Linked DNA regions of Homo sapiens. The protein of the gene in region 3 purifies or fractionates together with the protein of the main gene of each other region. This does not show direct contact. Each region holds a gene or a part of one and is shown on either strand. Other genes may lie near its edges.

Evidence for each region.
Region 1: the proteins of HNRNPM (region 3) and SF3A1 fractionate together in Homo sapiens (co-fractionation; 2 studies listed by BioGRID). This does not show direct contact.
Region 2: the proteins of HNRNPM (region 3) and TARDBP purify together in Homo sapiens (affinity purification with mass spectrometry; 2 studies listed by BioGRID, with this or other methods). This does not show direct contact.
Region 4: the proteins of HNRNPM (region 3) and EFTUD2 purify together in Homo sapiens (affinity purification with mass spectrometry; 2 studies listed by BioGRID, with this or other methods). This does not show direct contact.
Region 5: the proteins of HNRNPM (region 3) and DDX39B purify together in Homo sapiens (affinity purification with mass spectrometry; 4 studies listed by BioGRID, with this or other methods). This does not show direct contact.
Region 6: the proteins of HNRNPM (region 3) and LMNA fractionate together in Homo sapiens (co-fractionation; 3 studies listed by BioGRID, with this or other methods). This does not show direct contact.
Region 7: the proteins of HNRNPM (region 3) and SYNCRIP fractionate together in Homo sapiens (co-fractionation; 2 studies listed by BioGRID). This does not show direct contact.

The regions. Positions count from the first base shown.
Region 1 is NC_000022.11:30,332,895-30,336,394, forward strand, and holds part of SF3A1 (splicing factor 3A subunit 1), read right to left. Parts: intron 2,860-3,500; coding exon 2,758-2,859; intron 2,645-2,757; coding exon 2,573-2,644; intron 1,802-2,572; coding exon 1,700-1,801; 3' UTR 1-1,699. UniProt on the Homo sapiens protein: Component of the 17S U2 SnRNP complex of the spliceosome, a large ribonucleoprotein complex that removes introns from transcribed pre-mRNAs.
Region 2 is NC_000001.11:11,015,654-11,019,153, reverse strand, and holds part of TARDBP (TAR DNA-binding protein 43), read right to left. Parts: intron 2,311-3,500; coding exon 2,147-2,310; intron 422-2,146; coding exon 281-421; intron 1-280. UniProt on the Homo sapiens protein: RNA-binding protein that is involved in various steps of RNA biogenesis and processing.
Region 3 is NC_000019.10:8,482,975-8,486,294, forward strand, and holds part of HNRNPM (heterogeneous nuclear ribonucleoprotein M), read left to right. Parts: intron 1-183; coding exon 184-237; intron 238-2,628; coding exon 2,629-3,320. UniProt on the Homo sapiens protein: Pre-mRNA binding protein in vivo, binds avidly to poly(G) and poly(U) RNA homopolymers in vitro. Involved in splicing.
Region 4 is NC_000017.11:44,857,946-44,861,445, forward strand, and holds part of EFTUD2 (116 kDa U5 small nuclear ribonucleoprotein component), read right to left. Parts: intron 2,599-3,500; coding exon 2,487-2,598; intron 2,101-2,486; coding exon 1,960-2,100; intron 1,237-1,959; coding exon 1,135-1,236; intron 1-1,134. UniProt on the Homo sapiens protein: Required for pre-mRNA splicing as component of the spliceosome, including pre-catalytic, catalytic and post-catalytic spliceosomal complexes. Component of the U5 snRNP and the U4/U6-U5 tri-snRNP complex, a building block of the spliceosome.
Region 5 is NC_000006.12:31,532,004-31,535,503, forward strand, and holds part of DDX39B (spliceosome RNA helicase DDX39B), read right to left. Parts: intron 3,483-3,500; coding exon 3,364-3,482; intron 909-3,363; coding exon 777-908; intron 1-776. UniProt on the Homo sapiens protein: Involved in nuclear export of spliced and unspliced mRNA. Component of the TREX complex which is thought to couple mRNA transcription, processing and nuclear export, and specifically associates with spliced mRNA and not with unspliced pre-mRNA.
Region 6 is NC_000001.11:156,113,492-156,117,510, reverse strand, and holds the start of LMNA (lamin), read right to left. Parts: upstream 2,801-4,019; 5' UTR 2,593-2,800; coding exon 2,237-2,592; intron 1-2,236.
Region 7 is NC_000006.12:85,618,887-85,622,386, forward strand, and holds part of SYNCRIP (heterogeneous nuclear ribonucleoprotein Q), read right to left. Parts: intron 532-3,500; coding exon 382-531; intron 54-381; coding exon 1-53. UniProt on the Homo sapiens protein: Heterogenous nuclear ribonucleoprotein (hnRNP) implicated in mRNA processing mechanisms. Component of the CRD-mediated complex that promotes MYC mRNA stability.

The DNA.
Region 1 (3,500 bases), on a different chromosome or scaffold from region 3:
AACACCATGAACTGCCCACTGCTCCCAGAAAGAAAGAAGAACTTGGAATATGAGACTCCCCAGGTCTCCTGACCCTCTTCCTTCTTGGAATGAGACCCAGGTAGTGCTCAGGGGATTTCTGGTGTTGGCCATGGACAAGCAACCAGTAGTGGGCTCACTTTAGGGACGCAAACCACAAAGCCCACCTCAGGAAGCCAAATTTCAACTCTTGCCCCTGGGGCAAACTTCTAGCAACCAGGCCAGAGGCAAATGTCAGACAGGATAAGGGATGACATCCCATCAATCAAGTTGAAAATGGGAGGGACCCAGCAGTTTGTAATAAAGCCATAAAACTGGTACTGACTCTGGGTGAGAGGGAGAGGCAGGGTGGTGACTAGAGAGCTGGTTCTGTGACCTTGGGAAATGGTCTCACCCCTCTGAGCCCTGGAGATGACCTGATGGGGCAGCTAGGAGGTCCAAATGGAAGGACTGCAAATAAAAGGCACTGGGAACTCTCAGGGGCCACACACATGTGAGATCTTCCCAATAAAATCAGCCTTAGCTTTAAAACCAGGAAATTGTTAGCAACAGGCTCTCACCTTCCTCCAACACCCACAGCATTGCCTATCTCCCTGTGATAGCTTGATTCTAAAGATAACAGCCTGCCTTTACTCAGAAACCAGGACTGTGACGTGTTTTGCACACATTCTCTTTTCACTTTCACAGTGTGTGACTATGGCATGCAACTTATGTTCTCTGTGCCTCAGTTTACTCAAGTGTTAAACAGGAATACTCACATGAGGATTACATGAGTTAAAATGGATAAAATGGATAAAAGTAGAGAGTAAATTATTTAAACTTTATCAAATCCTTGGTACATGACCTTAATACAATTAAGTATTTGTTAAATACATACATTTTAAAGAAACGTCATCATATCCACACACCTATGAGGCACCTGCCCAGGACCACAGAGCCAATCAATCAGGTGATGAGTGATTCCAGGCCAGCAGGAAACCACCGCCCACTGACACAGGGACTGCACCATCCATCCTTGGTTTGCATGGTGCCTGCCATGCTTCCTGTATTACTGTTAAATACATGGGGCAGGCCTTTGGAGGATCCCAATGTTTTAAAAGGGCAATACGAATATGATTCTAATACATAAAAAGTATGAGGGCAGCAAGAATTTAGTTACAAAACCCAAAAATCCTCAAAGAGAAGCCACATAGCACTGTGCAGTGTTACCACTGCCTCGAGTCTGGACAGGGCACAGGTGACCGAGACAAGTCTTATTTAACTGATTTCACAAGAAGGGTCCGAGTTTTATTAGACAACCCATGTCAAGGTACAAAATGATTAATGACAATATCAGCCATATTCTATTAGCCAAGTGCCACCTGTCACTATGAAACTATCCTGTAGGACATCCCTGGGCTCTCAGTTGCTAATGGGCTGCTGAAGAAATGAATGTCCTCAAATCGAGACCCTAACACAAAGAGATTCCAGAGAGTGGCTTAGAAAACCCAGCTACTCTTACCAATGTGGGGAAAGGGTCAGGGGAATGAACCTCTGCAGGACAATTTGAATTCCCAAACTGAGTAAGAGCGAAACAAATATGCAGGCAAGGCAAAGCCTCAGGGGGGCTCCTGGGTCTGGGGCAGGGGGTGGGAGACAGGAGAGGCAAAATGGCAGGGACTTGACAGCAGGTTCCTCTTGTCTACTTCTTCCTCCCGCCTCTCTCCTTGAGGGCCAGGTGGATGACTGCGCCATTGGCCATGTTGTAGTAAGCCAGTGAGTTGGAATCTTTGATGAAGATACCCTGGAAAACAGACAGCGTGCCTTAGCATGGGGCAACCCAGCCTTGGGGATACCGCTGCAACCTTACAACTGTGCACTTGGTCTGTTTGCGCTCTGGACTTAGCAAATACAGGAGCTTGTGAGAAGGTAGGGTGTTGGGGACTGGAGGCCTCTCATTCCTCCCACTGTTTCCTTTCTTCCCACCAATTACGCTCCTCCCCTTTGTCAACATTTGACTCAAAAGCTCAACTCCCCAAAAAGTTGGCCCCTCACCAACTCCATGGAGCTCTGACTCTGAAATCACAAGACCTTTAGGGATCACTTAGCCCAACAGCCTCAATGGATAGAGATAACTGAGGCCCAGAGCAGGGATTTGTTCAAGTTCAGAGAAGAAGAACATTAATGCCTCCATGTGACCTGGCATCAGGCGGGGCTAGACTATCACCTCCAAGTCAGGCTGCCTGAGGTCATACTGGCAGGGATGGCCCAACCACTGGATCAGGAACCCACCAGAGCATGCCTAAGTCTTGTCACTAAATCTCTATGCCCAGTCATTGAGGCAAAGAATCTTACAGATCCCACACAAGACTCTACTGTGACCCCACCAGAGCCTTGCATTGTTGGGCACACCTGCCCCAACACTCCCAGCCAGCATCATGACTTCTAGGATGGATTCAGATGGCCACACCCAGATATCACTCCACTCCCCTTTTAGCTTCCATGACAGATTTAGCTTCTGTGAAAGCAGAGGTGTCAGGACCCAAGGGACAGGTCTGTGGACAAACTGACTCACCTCATACTGTAGCTTCTGTTTCCCTGCAGGCATGCCTGTGGCTTCATGAATCTTCACCTTAATGACAGAGACCTGTGGGATCAAGCAGCGGTCATTCAACTCCTTGGTAAGGCCAGCTAGAGGAAGCTTTCCCCTGAATGCTTGGTTCCCATGCACCTGATGCCAGTTTCTGGCAGTACCCATACCTGGTCCGTGAGTGGGAGGGTGAAGACCAGCACCTGCCCATTCAGTTTCCATTCCGTCTTATCCTGCATGTTGGGCACCTGGACTTTGATGGACACTGGACCCTACAAAACAGGAGGTGGTCATTATGCCTAGGGAGCTCGGAGCCAATCAAGAACTATGCTCTGCTATCCCTAGGCCTGTCCAGACAATGTCACCTGTGCATCTGGGCTCCTGGATTCTGGCCTGATTCACCACTGATAACCCCTTGTGAGGTTGTACAAGTCACCCCCCTTTGCAAGATTAGGTTTCTTTTCTTTAAAACAATCTCTATCTTGTCTCTTGGTGAGTCTGGAGCTAAACTGAAGAACTTTAGTGAAAATACTCTGCACACCCCAAGGGAAAAGAATATGACCTGCAGGGTCGGAAGACCTGGATTCCCAACTCAGCTTCCCAGCTAACAAGGTTTGTCTGAGCCTCAATGTCATTATCCACCAGACAGGGTTCATGACTGTTTTGAGTATTGAGGGGAAGTGTCTGTAAAGTGCTTAGCTCTATCCTGGTACTTAAGCGTTTAAGAAATGGGAACTATTATTAAAAAACAAACAGAGCGGGTGCAGTGGCTCACACCTGTAATCCCAGCACTTTGGGAGGCCAGCGTGGTGGATCACTTACGGCCAGGAGTTCAAGACAAGCCTGGCCAACGTGGCGAAACCCCATCTCTACTAAAATACTAAAAATACAAAAATTAGCTGGGTGTGTGGTG
Region 2 (3,500 bases), on a different chromosome or scaffold from region 3:
TAAGAAACTATTAACTTGACAAATAACCTTTTCTCTTTTCCATCCATAGCGAAAAGGAAGAACAAAATGAACAAAGGTTTAGTTTGGAGAAGTAATAAACTAAATATTTCAAACAAGCATAAAATATTCAGCATGCACTAAGGGCCAAAGACTTCAACAAGACAAAAGGATTTCATGAACACACCCTGCCGCTATCTTTTCTAAGTGTGTTTAACATTTTATCTTACAATCCTCTAAGGAAGTTTGTTGGCAAAAATTCCCAAAGCACAGACGCAAGTACCTTAGAATTAGGAAGTTTGCAGTCACACCATCGTCCATCTATCATATGTCGCTGTGACATTACTTTCACTTGTGTTTCATATTCCGTAAAACGAACAAAGCCAAACCCCTTTGAATGACCAGTCTTAAGATCTTTCTTGACCTAGAAAGGATGATACAAGTTTACTCTAAAAGTGCACATACTCACACACTCCATTCCCAAATCATAGTTCCTTAGAAAACAATTTGAATGGTTTCAACTGGATGCAGTGGCTTAAAACTTAAACCAAGTTAGTCTTAACAGTAAAAACAAGGAGGTTAATATTGAATCCATACTGTGTTAACAACAGAGCAAAACTCACTTATACAACAGAAATGTTTTTGAGTTTTTTAAAAAAGAGAGATGGGGCCAGGCGCGGTGGCTCACACCTGTATTCCCAGTGCTTTGGGATGCTGAGGAGGGTGGATCGCTTGAGCACAGGAGTTCAGGACCAGCCTGGGCAACACAGCAAAACCCTGTCTCTACAAAAAATACAAAGATTAGCCAGGTGTAGTGGCATGCACCTGTAGTCCCAGCTACTTGGGAGGCTGAGGCACAAGAATAGCTTGAACCCAGGAGGTGGAGGTTGCAGCGAGCCTACATTGCACCACTGCACTCTAGAGCCTGACTGACAGAGCCAGACCCTGTCTCCAAAAAGAAAAGAAAAAAAGAGAGGCCAGGCACAGTAGCTCACGCCTGTAATCCCAGCACTTTGGGAGGCGGAGGCGGGCAGATCATGAGGTCAGGAGATCGAGACCATCCTGCCTAACACGGTGAAACCCCATCTCTACTAAAAATACAAAAAATTAGCCAGGCGTGGTGGCAGGCACCTGTAGTCCCAGCTACTTGGGAGGCTGAGGCAGGAGAATGGCATGAACCCGGGAAGCGGAGCTTGCAGTGAGCCGAGATCATGCCACTGCACTCCAGCCTGGGTGACAGAGCAAGACTCCGTCTCAAAAAAAAAAGAAAAAAGAGAAACTGAGTCTGGATATGTTCGCCAAGGTGGCCTTGAACTCCTGGCCTCAAGCAACCCTCCCACCTCAGCCTCCCAAAATGCTGGGATTACAGGCATGAGCCACCACAACAGGATTTTAACAGAATGTCTTAGAATGAATTCAAAGATAAACTAAATTTAATGTTTACAAATTTTAAATGAAATGGAAAAACCTCCCATTAGTTTAATATATAAAGAAAAGCTATTGTCACCTACTTCCCTTAAGCCTTCATGCAACAGTAGGATTTTACAATATCAAAGGCAATAACATAGGGTACAACATATATGTATAAATATAACAAATATTGGAAGTATCATCTGTGTAACAGAAAGGACAGTGCCATTAAAATAACAAGAATGTGGCCGGGCGCGGTGGCTCACACCTGTAATCCCAGCACTTTGGGAGGCCAAGGCAGGTGGATCACTTGAGGTCAGGAGTTCAAGAACAGCCTGGCCAACGGGTGAAACCCTGTCTCTACTAAAAATACAAAATTAGCCAGGCATGATGGCGGGCACCTGTAATCCCAGATACAGGAGGCCGAGACAGGAGAAATCACTTAAACCCGGGAGGTGGAGGTTGCAGTGAGCCAAGATCGTGCCACTGCACTCCAGCCTGGGCAGCAAAGTGAGACTTGGTCTCCAAAAAAAAAAAAAAAAAAGAAAGGTAACAAGATTGTGGCTGGGCATGGTGGCTCAGCACATTGGGGTCGAGGCAGGAGGACAGTATGGGCCCAGGAGTTTGACGCCAGAACCTAGGGAACATAGTGATACCCCATCTCTATTTATACCAATAAATAAATGCTAGATACTCATTCACTGGTAAAGAAAAACTGTTTGATGCAATCGAAGTTTACCTGCACCATAAGAACTTCTCCAAAGGTACTAAAATACTCTTTCAGGTCCTGTTCGGTTGTTTTCCATGGGAGACCCAACACTATTAAATCGGATGTTTTCTGGACTGCTCTTTTCACTTTCACTGCTGATGAAGCATCTGTCTCATCCATTTTTCTTTTGTTATCTAAATAAAACGAGCAGAAACCTTTTAGAAATCTTCACTTAGCACTTCTTTAAAAACACTACCTCCTACATCTAGAAATGAGAAGCAAAAAGAAGACTCTAAGAAGAATAAGACACTGAAAACTTGGCAAGAAGTGATGTTTGCTCTAGAGGACAGAATAAAGGCTTAAGTTTAGTGTCTGAGGTGCTTTTCTGGTGCAAATTCAGTGATTTCCAAGTTTGTTTTTTGTAGCATTTCCGGATTACAATCTCTCCCTCTCAAAAGGTTTATCAAAACAAAAATAATTCTACTTCACTTTGACTTTAAATATCAGCAACTTGTATATCCTGATGAAGATTTAACTTTTATCTTTCCTAAACATTCAACAACAAATACACAACTTTTGTAATAAAACAGAAAACCAGGTACAGTGGTGTGTATGCCTGTAAGTTCCAGCAACTCAGGAGGCTGAGGAGGAAGGACGACTTGAGTCCAGGAGTTTGAGGCTGCAGTGTGCCTATGAATAGCCACTGCAATATGCCTGGGCAACAGAGCGAGAGCCTCCATCTCTAATTTCAAAAAAGAAAAAGAAACCAAAAGTTTGGCTTACTTAAAAAAACATAACTGGCTGGGCGCGGTGGCTCACACTTGTAATCCCAGCACTTTGGGAGTCTGAGGCAGGTGGATCACAAGGTCAGGAGTTCAAGACCAGCCTGGCCAAGATGGTGAAACGCCGTCTATACTAAAAATAAAGAAAAAATTAGCCGGGCGTGGTGGCAGGTGCCTGTAATCCCAGCTACTTGGGAGGCTGAGGCAGGAGAATCGCTTGAACCCAAGAGGCGGAGGTTGCAGTGAGCCAAGATCGTGCCACTGCACTCCAGCCTGGGCGACAAGGGCGAGACTTCGTCTAAAAAATAAATAAACAAATAAAAATAAATAAATAAAAATACAAAAATTAGCCAGGCGTGGTGGCAGGCACCTGTAATCCCAGCTACTCATGAGGCTGAGGCAGAGAATTGCTTGAACCTGGGAGGCGGAGGTTGCAGTGAGCCAAGATCGTGCCACTGCACTCCAGCCTGGGCGACAGAGTGAGACTGTCTCAAAAAACAAACAAACAAACAACAACAAAAAAACCCCCCAAATAACCTCAACCTTAGGTTATTTAGAAGAGAAGGGGAGATAATTTTTTTTTTTTGAGACGGAGTCTCATT
Region 3 (3,320 bases):
CAGCATCAAGGACTCTCCTAGTTCTCTGTAAAATGATCTTGTCTGTGCGTGTGTTTCTCAAACCCCTTTCCCTTTATCTTGTCATTTTTATTAGTAGTATTTCTACTCTGGAATCTGTAATGAGCACATTTCTATTGCCATAGAGGAATTTGGCTAATTTTTTTTTCTTCCTGATTTCCTTAGAAATCCTAAGTAATGCACTGAAGAGAGGAGAGATCATTGCAAAGCAGGGAGGAGGTAGGAACCGCTTAGTTTGATGTTTTGTTTTTTTAGAACAGGCTGTTATCGCTGGGGACTGTAGAGCTTAGTGGTGAGAAGTGCGGGTTCTGACACAGACTGCCCGGGGTGGGAGCAGCTCTGCCTTTTTCTAGCTGTGTGACGTTTGGCAAGTCACTGAACCTCTCTGTTTCTCATAGCACTCATTTGTAAAATGGGGGTGTAATAGTACCTGCCTCAGGGATGCTGTGGAGAGTGAATGCATGTGAAAGAGTGCTTCCGCACGTGCTGTGCACAGGCCGACCATCTTCATTGTTAGAGTACCTCTCTTTTGGGGGTTTTGTTTTCCACATTATAAATTCCTAAAAGTAAATATATTTTCCTTAGACTTGATGATAAGACTGAAAGCACACCACCCAACAAGTAATAAATGCTTGTAAAATAGATAAATGTACTCATTAGGAAAATATGAAGAAAGTATGGTCTGAAACCCCATCGCCCAGTGATGACTGCCGGAAACATTTTGTTCTGAATCTTTCATTCATACACAGCTTTATGGATACTGAGAACAAAATGTACTTTTTGAGCATTTTTGGAGACAGTCTCGCTCTGTCTCCCAGGCTGGAGTGCCGTGGTGCAGTCTCTGCTCACTGCGGCCTCAACTTCCCAGGCCTAAGCGATTCTCCCACTTTAGCCTCCCAAGTAGCTGGGACTACAGGCGTGTGCCACCTGGTTTGGCTAATTTTTTGATTTTTTTTGTAGAGATGGCATTTTGACATGTTACCCAGGCTTATCTCAAACTCCTGGCCTCAAGTGACCTGCATACCTCCAGAGTGCTGGGATGACAGATGTGAGCCACCACACCTGGCCCAAATGTACTTTTTCAGCCTGATTTTCCCTCTGAGTATCTTGGCATCTCACCTCCTGACTTCTGTGTTGGGCTGGCTCTGGAGCTCCACGCTGGTACCATTTCCTCCCATTTCTTTTTTTTTTTTTTTTTTTGAGAGACGGAGTCTCACTCTGTCGCCCAGGCTAGAGTGCAGTGGCACGATCTCGGCTCACTGTGACCTCCGTCTCCTGGGTTCAAGCGATTCTCCTGCCTCAGCCTCCCAAGTAGCTGGGACTACGGGCGCACGCCACCATACCCAGCTAATTTTTGCAATTTTAGTAGAGATGGGGTTTCACCATGTTGGCCAGGCTGGTCGCGAACTCCTGACCTTGTTCCGCCCGCCTTGGCCTCCCAAAGTACTGGGATTACAGGCATGAGCCACCACACCCAGCTGCCCCACCTCATTTCTGATGCCTTTGGGCAAAGTGCCCATTCTCGCTAGGTTCCTTATACTGTGGGGAAGTTCTGAGACGTCTCCCCTCTGAAAGTCACACATTCTTAGAGTCGGGCCTGCTTTGGCCGCTCACTGTGTGCTGTGCAGCTAGAGAAGCAGGCGCGGTGTGGCCAGTTACAGAGCCAGTTAGAGAAACTGCCCAGTTTCCTCTTGAATTGGTATCTTTGACTAGGCTGCTTGGGTCGGTCACAGGCTGGCTCTGGGCTGATGGCCACTCTCAGAGGCAAGCGACAGGGTTTCGGGGAGGAGCCCCAAACTCGGCATGTGGAAAGGGGTGGCCTTGCTGACGGAGCCAGACCCTGCTTTCCAGAGTTGCAAGCACCACGGGTGGGGGCGTCCCTTCGTTCTGCTGACTGACCCCCAGCCGCTACCAGAGCCCACTCTGCAGTGCCATCAACATCTTCTTTCCAAAGCCAGCAAGTCATTTGGTTTCCCTGACAATAGGGTCCCCAAAAGTGGCCAGCTGTGTGCATTTGTACACAGAGGATCTCTCGGTGTGTGTTTTTTTGACCTCTGCTTGATGGTGTGGCCGAAAATCCTTTCTCTGTGCCCTGGGAGCGCTGAGGAAATGCAGCCAGAGTGGCCCCCAGCAGAGCATCCTAGAGGGACAGGCTGGGAGGGGAAGGTGGGAGTGACTCCGACTTGTCTCCACATAACTCCTGTTCATTACCCTGGGTGGCCCCCCGAGTGGGGGGTGTCCATGCCTCCCCCTGGAGCATTTCTCAGTGTCTGCTGATGGAGAAACCTCAGATGTCTCAGGAATTGACGTCCATGGTTCACAAAGCTTGTCACAGACACTAGCACCTCACAGACACACATACAGGGGTGTTCTTTAGAAGTTGTGTTATGGAAATCTCAGCTGTGGCATAGAGCAGAGAGAATGCTGGGAGGCCCCCATGTGCCCACCACACAGCTGTAGCTGTTGTCAACATTTGAGGGGTGTCTTAATGGTAAATTATGGTGGGCCTTTACCCCTGATCCATGCCCATGAGCTGAAGTGGTCTGGCGTGTTGTGCACACGCACACTCAAGTTCTTGACACCCACCTGTGTTTTGTGTCCCTGTTTCAGGTGGAGGTGGAGGAAGCGTCCCTGGGATCGAGAGGATGGGTCCTGGCATTGACCGCCTCGGGGGTGCCGGCATGGAGCGCATGGGCGCGGGCCTGGGCCACGGCATGGATCGCGTGGGCTCCGAGATCGAGCGCATGGGCCTGGTCATGGACCGCATGGGCTCCGTGGAGCGCATGGGCTCCGGCATTGAGCGCATGGGCCCGCTGGGCCTCGACCACATGGCCTCCAGCATTGAGCGCATGGGCCAGACCATGGAGCGCATTGGCTCTGGCGTGGAGCGCATGGGTGCCGGCATGGGCTTCGGCCTTGAGCGCATGGCCGCTCCCATCGACCGTGTGGGCCAGACCATTGAGCGCATGGGCTCTGGCGTGGAGCGCATGGGCCCTGCCATCGAGCGCATGGGCCTGAGCATGGAGCGCATGGTGCCCGCAGGTATGGGAGCTGGCCTGGAGCGCATGGGCCCCGTGATGGATCGCATGGCCACCGGCCTGGAGCGCATGGGCGCCAACAATCTGGAGCGGATGGGCCTGGAGCGCATGGGCGCCAACAGCCTCGAGCGCATGGGCCTGGAGCGCATGGGTGCCAACAGCCTCGAGCGCATGGGCCCTGCCATGGGCCCGGCCCTGGGCGCTGGCATTGAGCGCATGGGCCTGGCCATGGGTGGCGGTGGCGGTGCCAGCTTTGACCGTGCC
Region 4 (3,500 bases), on a different chromosome or scaffold from region 3:
GAGTCTCGCCCTATCACCCAGGCTGGAGTGCAATGGTGCGATCTTGGCTCACTGCAACCTCTGCCACCCGGTTTCAAACAATTATCCTGTCTCAGCCTCCTGAGTAGCTGGGATTACAGGTGCCCGCCACCATGTCTGGCTAATTTTTGTATTTTTAGTAGAGACAGAGTTTCACCATGTTGGTCAGGCTGGTCTTGAACTCCTGACCTCAAGCAATCCAACCGCCTTGGACTTTCAAAGTGTTGGGGTTACAGGCGTGAGCCACCGTGCTCGGCCTGTTTTATTATTTTTCAATGCATTTATTTTTTGAGACAGGGTCTTGCTCTGTCACCCATGCTAGGGTGCAGTGGCATGATCGTAGCTCACTGCAGCCTCGAACTGCTGGGCTCAAGCAATCCTCCTGCTTCAGCCTGCGGAGTAGCTGGGACTATAGGTGCAAGCCACCACACCTGACTAATTTTTATTTTTTAGTTTTTTGAGACAGGGTATGACTCCATCTCAAAAAGGAGAGCAATGGCACAATGATTGCTCATTGCAGCCATGACCTCCTAGGCTCAGGTTGGAGAGCAATGGCACAATCACAGTTCATTGCAGCCTTGACAGTCTAGGTTCAGGTGATCCTCCCACCTAAGCCCCCCAGTAGCTGGACTACAGGTACATGCCACTGCACTGGGCTGGTTTGTAGAGACGAGGTTTCACTATGTTGCCCAGATTGGTCTCAAACTGGGCTCAAGCAATCCTCTCACCTCAGTCTCCCAAAGTGCTGCAATTACAGCAACGGACCACCATGCCCGGCCTGGCTATTTTTTTTATTTTAATTTTTGTAGAGGCAGTGTCTCACTTTGTTGCTCAGGTTGGTCTTGAATTCCTGGCTACAAGCAATCCTCCCACCTCGGCCTCCCAAAGTGCTGGGAGTGAGCCACCAAGCACGGCTGAGCCTTGATTTTAAACGTATGACACAGCAGAAGGGGGCAAACCAGTTCTCAAAAACCTTCCCATATAAGGAGCAACAGATCATGGTTTTCACAAACACATGTACTCTCTCTTCCCTTGGAGCTTCCCAGGAATTCAAGGATTTGGTCACTTGTGAAAAGTCTGGACCGTGAACCCAGCTCCCGGCAGATACTGCTGTACCTTGATGTCTATCTCTGAGTACATCTTCCGCAAATCATGCATCACACAGTCCAGGTAGAGCTCCCCAGTGCCCAGGATCACATGCTCGCCAGACTCCTCCACCTGAAACACAACAGGCAGTCACAGCCTGGATTCTCTTATGCCAGCAAAGGCACACACAAACAAAATCAAGGCCAGAGCAGACAAGAAGTTGCCTATCAGAAACAGCTACTACTTAGCATCTGTTCCAGCCTCTTCAAGAAGGTTCAGTGAGGAGCATCTGCCTATGAGTGGGTCCTCAAGACACCAGGACCACTCAGCATGGTGATACTAGGTGTGAAGTCAATGATTTAATTCCCATCTTAATGATTTAGGTCAAACTCTACCCTATACCCATGGACATAAGCTAGCCCTTTAGCCCTCCTGGCCTGCTACCTGGAAAGGTACACTGGCAGGCTCATAGTGTACAAGGATCAGAGTAACAACTCACTTTTCCTTCTCTTCTCGAGAAAATCAATTCAAAGTATACTCATTAAGAAATGTATTTTTGTCTAGATAAAGACATCTGCGGAACACAAATACGCACACACACACACACACACAACCTTGTCCTATACCCCCCATCACTGCCCCCTCCTACACAGGTCTTGTTTTAACACACACACATACACACACACACGTGTCTTGTCCTGCCTTGACATGACAGCCATAGGCTGGGCTTGCTCCTGACACAGCTTCCTGTAAGCAGCAGATCATGAACACCTGATGGATGGGAAGCGGTGTGCAGCTCTGCCCATTCAGCTGGGGATAGTGGGGCTTGGCGGCTGCTGCAGGCCATGGGCATACCTTGGTGGTGAGGGATGGATAGCTCTTGTTGACCTTGCGCAGGCCATCAAGCATCTTGGGCAGCTCTGAGGGGTTGACTGGCTCCACAGCAATCTTGATAACAGATGTGGTATTGAACTTCAAGGGTCGGAAAATCTGAGCCTGAGATCCAAAGCACAAAGGACTGAGGGCAACTGGCATGAGCAGGCACAGAAAGTGCAGAGGTATGAGAAGAGAAGAGGACTTGCTTAGGATCAGACTATGTATTCCCCAACCAGGAGCCTGGTGCTGAGTGGGGGTAACCTGAAGGGCCATTTCTTCCCAGGTATTCTGGCAGAACAAAGAGAGGAGGAAAATAATAAAAGGCACCCGTCCTAATTCCTCGCATCTGAACTGAGTACAGGGAGAATCCAGCAGGGTCATATCTAGAAGGCTAAGCCTGAAACCAGGACATGGCAATGACTGTGGATTAGTCCCGTTTGTGCTCATGTGTGTCCCTGGGACCATCTAGCTTAAGCCAACCCAGTTGGTCTCTTCAGAAACTCTACCTCCTCATTGCCTCGGGGTTCGGTTATGGTTGCTGTCTTCACAATTGGTTGATCAACACCTTCAATCAGAACCCAGTTGCCAGCAGGAACACGGTTCACCTCGATGTGGTACCTGAAGCAATGTCCAATAAGCAGCAGTGAAACTTAGGCAGAGCATTCCCTAATTTTTTTTTTTTTTTTTTTTTTGAGACAGGATCTCACTTTGTTACCAGGCTGGAGTGCAGTGGCACAATCTTGGCTCACTGCAGCCTCGAACTTCCAAGGTTCCAGTGATCCTTCTGCGTCAGCCCCCCAAGTAGCTGGGACTACAGGCACACACTAACATGCCCAACTAATTTTTGTATTTTTGTAGAGACGGGGTTTTTTCATGTTGTCTAGGCTGGTCTTGAACTCCTGAGCTCAAGCAATCCTCCTGCCTCAGCCTTCCAAAGTGCTAGGATTACAGGTGTGAGCCACCACATCCAGCCTATTCCACAAAAATTTACTGAGTACTTGCTGCGTGCCAAGAGCAGGGGTGAGCAAAACAGATACATTCTAGCAGGGGAGAGATACAGTAAACAATCATTATCCACACATGTATGTGGTTACAAACTGATGGGCATTATGAAAGAAAAGTACAAGGTATTTCTGTGAGGACATAAGAGGAAAATCTTATTCCAATTGCAGGCTCATGGTAAAAAGCTGCCCAAGGTGTCGACTGTAAGGGGCTAGCAAAAGCATCAAAGAAGGCCGGGTGTGGCGGCTCACGCTTATAATCCCAGTGCTTTGGGAGGCTGAGGTGGGTGGCTGGATCACCTGAGGTCAGGAGTTTGAGACCAGCCTGGCCAACATGGTGAAAACTATCTCTACTAAAAATACAAAAAATTAGCCAGACATGGTGGTGCACACCTATAACCCTGGCTACTTGGGAGGCTGAGGCAGGAGAATCGCTTGAACCCGGGAGGCAGAGGTTGCAGTGAGCCGCAATCACGCCATTGCACTCCAGCCTGGCTGACAGAGAGAAAAAAAAAAAAA
Region 5 (3,500 bases), on a different chromosome or scaffold from region 3:
TACTATTTGTAGAGACGGGCGTCTCCCTATGTTACCCAGGCTGGTCTTGAAGTCCTGGGCTCAAGCAATGCTCCTGCCTCAGCCTCCCAAAGTACTGGGATTATGGGCATGAGCCACTGCCCTGCACCCAGTCAGAAATGCTTCTCTTGAATAAGCAGTTATTAGAGGAATTAAACATTCAAGAACCCTAACATGCCCCCAAACATCGTTTCAAGACTTTTAACAACTTCCTAAAATCCTTCAAGGACTTTTGGAGACAAGATCTCACTCTGTTGCCCAAGCTGGAGCACAGTAGTGCAATCATAGTTCACTGCAGCCTCAATTTCCTGGGCTCAAGCTATCCTCTCACCTCAGCCACCAGAGTATCTGGGACTACAGGCATACACCACCACACCTGGCTAATTTTTTTCTTCTTTGGTAGTGATGAAGTTTCGCCATGTTGCCCCGACTGGTCTCAAACTCCTGGACTCAAGTGATCCACCTCCCTCAGCCTCCCCAAGTGCTGGGATTACACACATAAGCCACCGTGCCTGGCCAAGGATCTTAATTTTTGAAGTTTATTTTCCTTGAGGTTATTGAGGACATACCCGTGCCAGCCATAGAATAGAAAAGCAGCTCCCACCTTACTCATGCTCAGCCCCTAAGATATTTATACCCTCATTATTCTCTCCCACATCACACATGTGATTTCCTCAATAAAAGTGTACTTAATATCCAGGTTTCTGCTACAGCTGGAGTGCTCCAATGCTCATCCCCCTACTGGACGTCTAACTGACCTGGTTGAACTCAAGGACATCCAGAAGGTCAAAGAGCTTCCGGTTCTTCTCGTTGTCCTTCAGTTTCACGTAGTACTGCTGCAACCCATGCAGCGTCAACTTCGTCTCATCATCCACGAAGATCTCCATTGGCTGGGGGGGAGGAAGGGGGTGGGGAACGGGAGGAGGGCAGAGTGGGGGGGTTAAACCTGGGGGGGTGGAGGAAGTTGATCTCCAATACACCCCATGGGGGGATGGGGAGGAAAGAGAAGATTGAAAACCCCACCCCACTCCCAAAAATACCCACATTTTACTGTGGTCTCTCTCACATTACATCTAATTTCCTTCCTATCAGATGAGTTTTAAGACTGCCCAACTAAAAACTATCATGGGAAAGAAACTGCAAATGAAGTCAAGGAGCAGTGAAACCACCCAATGGCACAGATGCCATTACCTCAAATAGAGGTGGGAGAGGAAAGAAAATGGGAGATGATTCTCAAAGGGAGAGCAAGGACCAAACATCTGGGAAATGATGGGAGGCAGTGACTCAAGGTCAGAATAACTCCATCAGAGGTGCTTCTAAGAACATGGGGTGGGGGGAGGACAACTGCTCCATTTGATTCTCCTACTTCAACTAAGAGAATCTCGTGTGCATTAGCAAAGTGGATGTCTTTTAAGATCAGAATGCTGCAATGGACAGTCAAAATGCCACTTAAGGAGAAACAAAAATTACTCAAGATGAGTTACTTGCCGTCAGACCACAACAGGATAGTTTTAGATGAGACTGGTCTCTTGACTAAGAATTAAACCATCTACAGGTTTACAGGAAAGGTATCAGTAAGTGGTGTTAAAATACCAAATTCAGAGCAGCAGATACACTTTTAAGGGACAGGATCTCACCATGTTGCCCAGGCTGGAGTGCAGTGGCTATTCACTGGCACAATCATAGCACACTATAGCCTCAAATTCCTGGGCTCAAGTGATCCTCCTGCTTCAGTCTCCTGAATAGCTGGGACTACAGGCACACACCATTATACCTCACTGCATTCATCTTTAAAATTAAAAAACCCCCTGAAGGGGAGGAAAGTAACAAAGACAGAAATTACCACAACTCCAAAGCCCAACTTTCCTAACACTTTTTATACTATCCTGGGGGAAGATAGTTAATATGAAGACCCAGAGGACAAAATAGGAAAGGATGCGTGTGTCATGGGAAAAAAACCAGAAGCCCAATCCCAGAAGGCAGGTTTTGTTTTTTGTTTTGTTTTGATACAGGGTCTCTCTCTATCACCCAGGCTGGAGTACAGTGGCACAATTACAGCTTACTGCCACCTCCACGTCCCGGGCTCAAGCAAACCCTCCTGCCTCAGCTTCCCAAGTAGCTGGGACTACAGGCATGCGCCACCACGCCCGGTTTTTCTGGTAGAGACAAAGTCTCACTACACTGCCCCAGCTAGTCTCAAATTCCTGGGCTCAAGCAATCCTCCCACCTTGGCCTCCCAAAGTGCTGGGATTAGAGGTGAGCCACCAGGCCCAGCCAAGGCAGGCTTTCTAAAGAGAAGTTCCATGGCCTCCTTCAAATCTCATTCTAGCCCCAAATACAGCTAAAGAGTGATCATCCCACGGGAAGGAACACTGCAGGGAGGGGAAGAACACACTCCACTGCTTATGCAATTGGCCCCACCTAGCCCCAAACCCTAACAACCACCCGATTACATCCACTTTACCTTTCCTATGTCCCTCTCCTCTGAGTATTAAAAAAAACAAAAAAATTTTTTTAAGAAAAAAAATCTACCACCCCATTCAGGACACCCCTCCCCAACACATATTGGGGGAAACGGGGCACGGCACGCGTTGGGTTCAGGAAAAAAACCGGGAACGGAAAAAGAGGCTGGTTTGGTCCTCAGCTTCCTGGTCAGGTTTCCCCGCGGCCTCCGCTGCCGCCATCCACCGCTGGGTGCCGTCTGCATTCCCTCGCCGCGCCACGGTGCTTCTCTGTTGCCGGCTCACATCAACCGAGGTTCCAGATGGGTGCAAGGAGATGTGGGTGGGAAGGAGTAGGGTATCGGGGATTGAGGTGCCAAAGGCCCCCACCCCTGGAGGTGGGGAAGGGGAGGATTCATTTGTGCTGATGCTCTTCTTTTGGACATGCCCTGCCATCTGTCTGTCCCTCTCTTGCTCTCCTGCCACCGGGAAGTAGGAGTTTTGGTGAGCAGAAGGCTCCAGCTGTACGCTCGATGCCACCTTGAGGGTGCGTGGCTGTAGGGTGCATGTAAGAGACGATGGATGGGTGGGTGGTAGGGCAGAAAAATCCTGCCCTCCCCCAAAGGGAGAAGAGGTTCAAAAATGTTGTGATTTATGAAAAAGTCGAACACTACCCGCTCTCACATTAACCCGACCAAGTCTTCCGGAGTTTCCCTGGCACCCGCGCAGGCCCTAACACTAGCTGTCTCTGCTTCTGTATGTCTCTTCAAGGAGTCATTACTCCCAGTTGGGCACAAGCCGCCTTCTTGGCACTTGAATGACAAGGGAGTCTGAGGAAGAGGGCGAGGAAGGGGAGGAGGCAGCGGGCGGGGAGTGGAGGGAGAGAAGGTAGAAGGGTATTTACATCTTGCATGAACTTGCGGCAGACTGGACGGATCTCTTTGCTCAAGGTAGCACTGAACATCATGACCTGCTTCTCGTGGGGGGTCATGCGAAAAATTTCCTGGACATCCCGACGCATGTCTACAAGAACAAGGAAAA
Region 6 (4,019 bases), on a different chromosome or scaffold from region 3:
CTAATCCCAACACTTTGGGAGGCTGAGGCAGGCAGATCACTTGAGGTCAGGAGTTCGAGATCACCCTGGCCAACATGGTGAAACCCCGTCTCTACTAAAAATATAAAAAGTAGCCGGGCGTGGTGGCAGGCACCTATAGTCCCAGCTACTTGGGAGGCTGAGGCAGGAGCATGGCTTGAACCTGGGAGGCAGAGGTTGCAGTGACCTGAGGTCACACTACTGTACTCCAGCCTGGGCAACAAAGCAAGACTCCGTCTCAAAAAAACAAAATAAAGGTTGATGGCCGGGCATGGTAGCTCACACCTGTAATCCCAGCACTTTGGGAGGCCGAGGCAGGTGGATCATTTGAAGTCAGGAGTTTGAGACCAGCCTAGCCAACATGGTGAAACCCCATCTCTACTAAAAATTAAAAAAAAAAAAAAAAAAAAAAATAGCCATGTGTGGTGGCACACACTTATAATCCCAGCTACTCAGGAGGCTGAGGCAGGAGAATCTTTTGAGCCTGGGAGGCAGAGGTTGTGGTGAGCCAAGATCGCACCACTTCACTCCAGTCTGGGTGACAGAGTAAGACCCTGTCTCAAAAAAAAACCGTTAAGCCTGTCTTCCTACACACAACTTCCATTGACTCTTCAGAAAGAAGGGTGATGGGCCCAGCGTGGTGGCTCATGCCTGTAATCCTAGCACTTTGGGAGGCTGAGGCGGGTGGATCACCTGAGGTTGGGAGTTCAAGACTAGCCTGACGAACATGGAGAAACCCCATCTCTACTAGAAATACAAAATTAGCCCGGCATGGTGGCACATGCCTGTAATCTCAGCTATTCGGGAGGCTGAGGCAGGAGAATCACTTGAACCTGGGAGGCGGAGGTTGCAGTGAGCCGAGATTGTGCCATTGCACTCCAGCCTGGGCAACAAAACCACACCTAGCAAAGGGTTCTAGGAAGAGCAGAAGTTTGGAGTAGATGATAAAAGAGAGAGAAGAAGTCAAAGCCAACAGCCCTTTACGGATCTCCAAGCACCCTTAGTGCTCTTGGCCTGGGTCTGCATAGAGAAAGGGAAGGCAGGAAGAAGGGAAACAAATTTTGATGGGGCTGGAAGAGAGGGCCTATACTTCCAAGCTCCCAAAGGCTTTTTTAGAAAAGAAGAAGGTGCAGTTGAGTAGGGTGGGGTAGGGTGGGGCAGGGGTGGGTAAAGTGGGAGTGGCCTGAATCTTCCAACGGCTGGATTTCAAAAATGTCACTGTATTCCAGCACTTCAATAAGACAAAGATCAAAACGTCAGCAGCTAAGAGGATGGGCCCGAGCAAAGACTGCCTGGCCCCGCTGGGAAAATGAAAGTGGCTCACCCCAAGGAGGGAAGGACAGTGCCCCCAACCCTCGAAGACACTAGGCAGAGGGCCAAGGGAGGAGTGCGGCCAGACCTGGGCATAACACAACTTCCTGAGCTGGGAGCCTCTGCCCTCTGCCTCCCTCCCTCCCTTGCATTCCTGGGCCAAGCAGGCCAAGGGCTGTGGGAGCTGCGGGGGAGCCGATCTCTCATCTCCCGGAGCTCTTTTGGTGGGCCTGTCAGAGCCCAAGGAAGGTCCCAGACACGCAGAGTGGCAGAGTGAGGGAGAACTTCCCAACCCTTAGAACCCAGGACAAGGTCATGCTGAGGGGGGGCCACCGCCAAGCCCTTGGGAGGGAAAAGGGGGATTGCCCTGCCTTCCTGACCTCGCTCCAACACGCTGGACAGATGCCAACTTGAGAGTTATGTCTTAGTGGGCATCATGTGTTCAGAGCCAGCTTGGGCAAAGCTAGCACAGTGCCAAGCCCGCTAACAAAGTTCTAACAGGACCCTTTCTGCCACTCCGATGTGTCCTGGGTGCCCAGAGTTCTTCGAGCTGGCAGGGCTAGTTCTGTTTTGCTCAAGCCCCTCCCCCCGGCTCCAAATAGTTGGCAAATCCCAATCTGACCGAATTCAGGCCGGCCCCAGCCCCAACTTGTCCCTGATACCCCCACCATTCCTTATATCCTCCCCGACCCTCTCCCAGAGACCACCACTTCCCTCTCTGTCCTGTCTTGACAATTCCCCTTGACACTGCCAGTCACCCGCTGGGGGCAGTTCCGGGGAGGGAGGAGACTATGGCAAAGTTATCGGCCTCCAGGCCCTCTCACTCCCTTCCTGCGGCCGGCCAGGGGCGCCGGCCCGCCGCCCTCTCCACTCCCCGCCAGGCACGCAGCCACCTGGGCGAACTCACCGCGCTTTCAGCTCCTTAAACTCCTCACGCACTTTGCTCAGCTCCAGCTGCAGGCGGGCGCGCTCCTTGGCTACTGAGTCAAGGGTCTTGCGGGCATCCCCGAGCTCGGCCTCGTAGGCGGCCTTGATGCCGGACACCTCGCGGCTGACCACCTCTTCAGACTCGGTGATGCGAAGGCGCAGCCCTGCGTTCTCCGTTTCCAGCGAGCGCACACGGTCGATGTAGACCGCCAAGCGATCATTGAGCTCCTGCAGGTCCTCCTTCTCCTGCAGCCGGGTGATGCGGGTGGGCGACAGCGGAGTGGAGCTGGCCTGCGCCCCGCTGCGGGTGGCGCGCCGCTGGGACGGGGTCTCCATGGCCGGCAGGTTGGCAGCGCTGCCCGCGGGGCAGGGGTCCCGGAAAGGGCGCGGGGCTCGGGTCGAAGGACAGAGACTGCTCGGAGTCGGAGTGCGCCGGCCGGCTGGCTCTCGGCTTGCTCCTGGCAGGCGTGGGGATCTGGGCCGGGCGCTGTCGGACCTCGGGATCTGGGTTGGCTGGTGTAGGTGCGGCGCTCCCGCGAACACTGAGTCACCGACGCCGGGGCAAAGGCTCTAATAGGTCCTCCTCTGAAGGGAGGAGGGGCCACTACTCTTAAAGGGGCAGTCCCAGATCCATTGGGGGTGGGGGCGGGAGTGGTGAGGAGGGGGAAGGACCGTTGGGGTGTGGCGGAGTCGGGCCCCACCCTCTCCAGCGCACCCCTAACTGCGTGAGGCTCAAGCTTCCCCTCTCTTGGCTCCTGCCTGCTCAGCACTGTCGGCTCCAAGCTTGCCCCCATTGCCTCAGACCTTCTGGGCTAGAGGGCAGAGCCAAGGAGGGAGAGTGGGTGGGCAAAAGGGTCGGGGAGAAAGAGAGGGAAGTGGGCGCAAAGCAAGGGAGAGGGTCAGGTAGGCAGGGCTGGGAGCCAGGAAAGTGGGGGGAGGGCTGAGGCTGGTGCCCATCAGTGTGACTCACCCTTCTTCCACCACTGGCTCCCCCTGTCCTCCCAGTAGTAATAGTGAGTCACCCCAACCCCCCTCCACACGTGGGCAGCCCATTCAGAGCTGCATCTCAGTGTGCCAGGAGTGGGGTGGAGAAGGAATGCCTGGGTTCCCTGGGGGGAGCAAAGTTCTGGAACCTGAGTTCCTTTATGCCCCCAGTTTGGGGCCAGGGATCAAGGAGTTTGGGGGGTCCCTTTTTTTCTTTCTTTTGCCCCAATCTATCTCTCTTCAAAGCCAAGCATTCGTTTTTAGACCCAAGCAACAAGCCACAGTCCCCTAAAGAAGTCCCCTAAAGAAAGCCAAGAATAGGAGCCAGGCACTGCCCCTTCCATCTCCTGTCCCCTTCCTTTGGACCCAAGCACTGCCTGGGTTCCTTCCCCCTTCAGTCCCTTTCTACTGCTTACCGCACCCAGTCAACTTATTTTTTTCCCCCAGAACTGTACTTATTTTAATGGATAATTTAAAACAGATACCAGAGCTGTGCATGCATTCATTACGTTGCCAAGACACTAGGTCCCAGATTTCTGTGGTTCCCAGAGGGGCCTGAAAGGGGAAGCAGGGCTGGGGGCTGGACAGCCAATATTGGGTCTCTATCCTGGTTTCAGCCAGAAAGAAGGTAGTGGGGGGCAAGAAGGTAGTGGGGGACAGGAACAGCAAAGACCCCACAGCCTTGCTGGCTGCAAAGGCCAGCACCATACTCATCTCTACTTTCCTCTCTGGCCAGGTCCATTCTGCAGCTGGCTCTGGGGAGGGGCCAGGCTCTCTCA
Region 7 (3,500 bases), on a different chromosome or scaffold from region 3:
ACAATTTCAATATTTTCTCCCTCCAAGTCTTTGCCATTCATTTCTTCCATAGCCTTAAAAAATTAGATAAGTCAATATAAAAATAGGACTTTCATACAATTATGATTCATTTAAAGTTGGAATATCATTTATCATTAATGTGGGAAGGACAAGAGAAAGCCCCATGCAGGCAGTCAAATAATTTTATTTAAAGATGCAGATATTCAATTATTTTTCATTTTTACTTAGAAAACTGCCAACATCACTAAAACCAAAAGGTTTTAGTTTGAATGGATTCCATGGACTTCCAAAGTCTCCTCCAATTTGTAAAACTATTTTGAGATTCTAAAATGACTAAATTTGTTAGTCTGATTTAGATGCCTGTAATTCCACCATATTTACCTTGACAGCACCATCTCGCTCATCAAAATGAATGAACGCATAATCTTTTAACTTCTTCACTCGTTCCAGTTTCCCAAACTGACTAAATGCCTTTTCTAAAATCTCTTCTGTTACAGTATTGGCAAGGTTGCGTACAAACAGCACTTTTACCTAGGGGGAAGAAAATACCCCCCTGTATTATTTCCAAAGAGTTCCATTTCTAAGATACCACCACCCCACCCTACAAAGTTAACTCAAATCACAATCCATTAGAAGAATGTCAGAATATAAAAAAAAAAAAAGTTTTCAACTCCTTGGGTAAATATCAAGCAGCAGAACTGCTGGATCATGTTGAAAGACCTGAAATAGATGCTTTGCCAAAAAAGATATACAGATGGCAAAGAATCTCATGAAGATGCTCAATATAATCTGTCATTCGGAAACCGCAAGTCAAAACTATTAGAATGGCCAAAATCCAACACACTATAAATGCAGGTAAGAATGCAGAGCAATAGAAACTCTCATTCATTGCTGGTGGGAATGCAAAAGGGTATAGCCCCTTTGAAAGACAGTTTGGCGATTTCTTACAAAACTAAACACACACTTCCATATGACCCAGCAATCCTGCTCCTTATTTACCCAGAGTTGAAAACTTACATGCACACAAAAACTTAGAGAGAGATGTTAATAGCAGCTTTATTTGTAACTGCCAAAAATTTGCCAGACGCAGTGGCTCACACCCGTAATCCCAGCAATTTGGGAGGCTGAGGCGGGCAGATCACCTGAGGTCAGGAGCTCGAGACCAGCCTGGCCAACACAGTAACACCCCGTCTCTACAAAAATACAAAGATTAGCCGGGTGCGATGGTACGCAACTATGGTTCCAGCTACTCGGGAGGCTGAAGCATGAGAAATGGTTGAACCCAAGAGGCAGAGGTTGCAGTAAGCCGAGATCGTGCCACTGCACTCCATCCTGGGTAACACAGCGAGACTCTGTCTCAAAAGAAAAACAAAAAAATTTCCAAAAATTGGAAGAAACCAAGATGTTCTTCAATGGGAGAATGGACAATTGTGGCACATACAGAAGGAATATTATAACTGATAGAAACTAGTTAAAAGCCACAAAATGACATAGAAGAACTTTAAATATGTATTACTAAGAGAAAGAAGCCAATGTGAAGGTTACATAATGTATGGTTCCAACTATGTAACATTCTGAGAAGGCAAAACTATGGAGACAGTGACTGCCAGTGGTTGAATGGGGAGGGATGACTAAGCACAGGACAGAGGATTTTTAGGGCAGTGAAACTATTCTGTATAATACTATGATGGAAACACGGTTATACATTTCTCCAAACCCACAGAACATACATCTAGAGTGAGACCTCATGTAAACTATGGACTTTAGGTAATCAATCTACGTCCATCAATTTTAACAAATGTACTATTCCAGTGCAGGATACTGGTAGTGAGGAAGGCTGTGCCTGTGTAGGGGGCAGAAGTCATATGGCAATTCTGTGCTTTCTGCTGTAAACCTAAAACTGCTCTAATGAAGTCTATGAAAAAGAAAATGCAGACTACAGGCTACATCAGTAATAATTACCAATTAGTAATTATTTTGCAATAAAAAAGATAATTTTTCCTAACAAAGTAAATACCATGCCCTCTAAGAGAGTTATTGAATGTTTAACACTTAACAAGAGTGGCCAAAACTAATTAGGACCTGCTTTTGAAATCTTAAAGGGGGAAGGACTGTTCAAAATATTAGTAAGACAAACTGTTCTCAATCCTGAAAGCTTCTCAAAGTAAAATTACAAAATTTAACCTCTTCACTAACATTATCACTTCCTCCTAAAATAACTTGAATACCATCTGAATGTGTTAATCTAAAGTGCTAACCCAATGAGAATTTATAGGCCAGAGGAAAAATGAATCCTAACTATTTTCTCTTCTCTAAGACCACTTATCCTTCAATAATATTCATAGCTCCCTGGCAGTTCATATTACCCTCAATTTAACTCAACTAGTGGTGTCTGACACCTAACCTGTAAGTAACAAAGAGGGAATTCTTAAAAGACAAAGGATAACTGGGGCATGGTGGCTCATGCCTGTAATCCCAGCATTTTGGGAAGCAGGATTGCTTAAGGCTAAGAATTGTAAGACCGGCCTGGGCAGCACAGGGAGATTAACTCTGCCTCTACAAAATTTTTTAAAAAAATTAGCCAGGTGTGGTAGTACACACCTGTAGTTCTAGCTACTTGGGAGGCTGAGGTGAGAAGATCTCTTGAGCTTGGGGCTACAGTCAGCTATGATCATGCCCCTGAACTCTAGCCCTGGGCCACAGATCTAGACCCTGTCACTTAAAAAAAAAAAAAAAAAAAGAGAACAAAGGATAGAACAAATAACTGCAAATTACTGCACCAGTGTGTAATAAAGTGTTGACTCAAGGGATGTTTATTCTTATACAATGTCTCCACTGACTGCTGAAGTCAGGATACCTAATAATGGCTAAATGTAACTGCAAGCACCTCTGCTGCGGCCAGTATAATTTACTGTTTTTAGTAGTAAGACTTTTAACCCCAAAACCATGTAAACTAATGGTGCCATTCTCAAAAACTCAAATTGCTCTTAAAAAACACACAAAATGGAAGTCAACTGTCTACAGCATGTAGGCGACTTCATTACAAGATTGTGATGGCTATACAATTATGGCTAAGTATCCACGCATCAATTTCTATTTTCACTTTGCAGGCACATGGTATTTCCAGTGCGCACTGCCTAGTCCCGTAGTAAAGAACATTTCTCCCAACTCTAAAAATATGGTTTAAAAAAAAATGTGTCCAGGGCCAGGTGCAATAGCCTCACGCCTCTAAATCCCAGCACTTTGGAAGGCCGAGGTAGGTGGATCCCGAGGTCAGGAGTTCGAGACCAGTCTGACCAACATGGTGAAACCCCAGCTCTACTAAAAAAAACACAAAAATTAGCCAGGTGTGGTGGTGGGAGCCTGTAATTCCAGCTACTTGGGAGGCAGGAGAATCACTTGAACCCGGGAGGCGGAGGTTGCAGTGAACCAAGATGGCACCATGGCACTCCAGCCTGGGAAACATGGGAAACAAGAGACTCTTGTCTCAAAAAATAAAA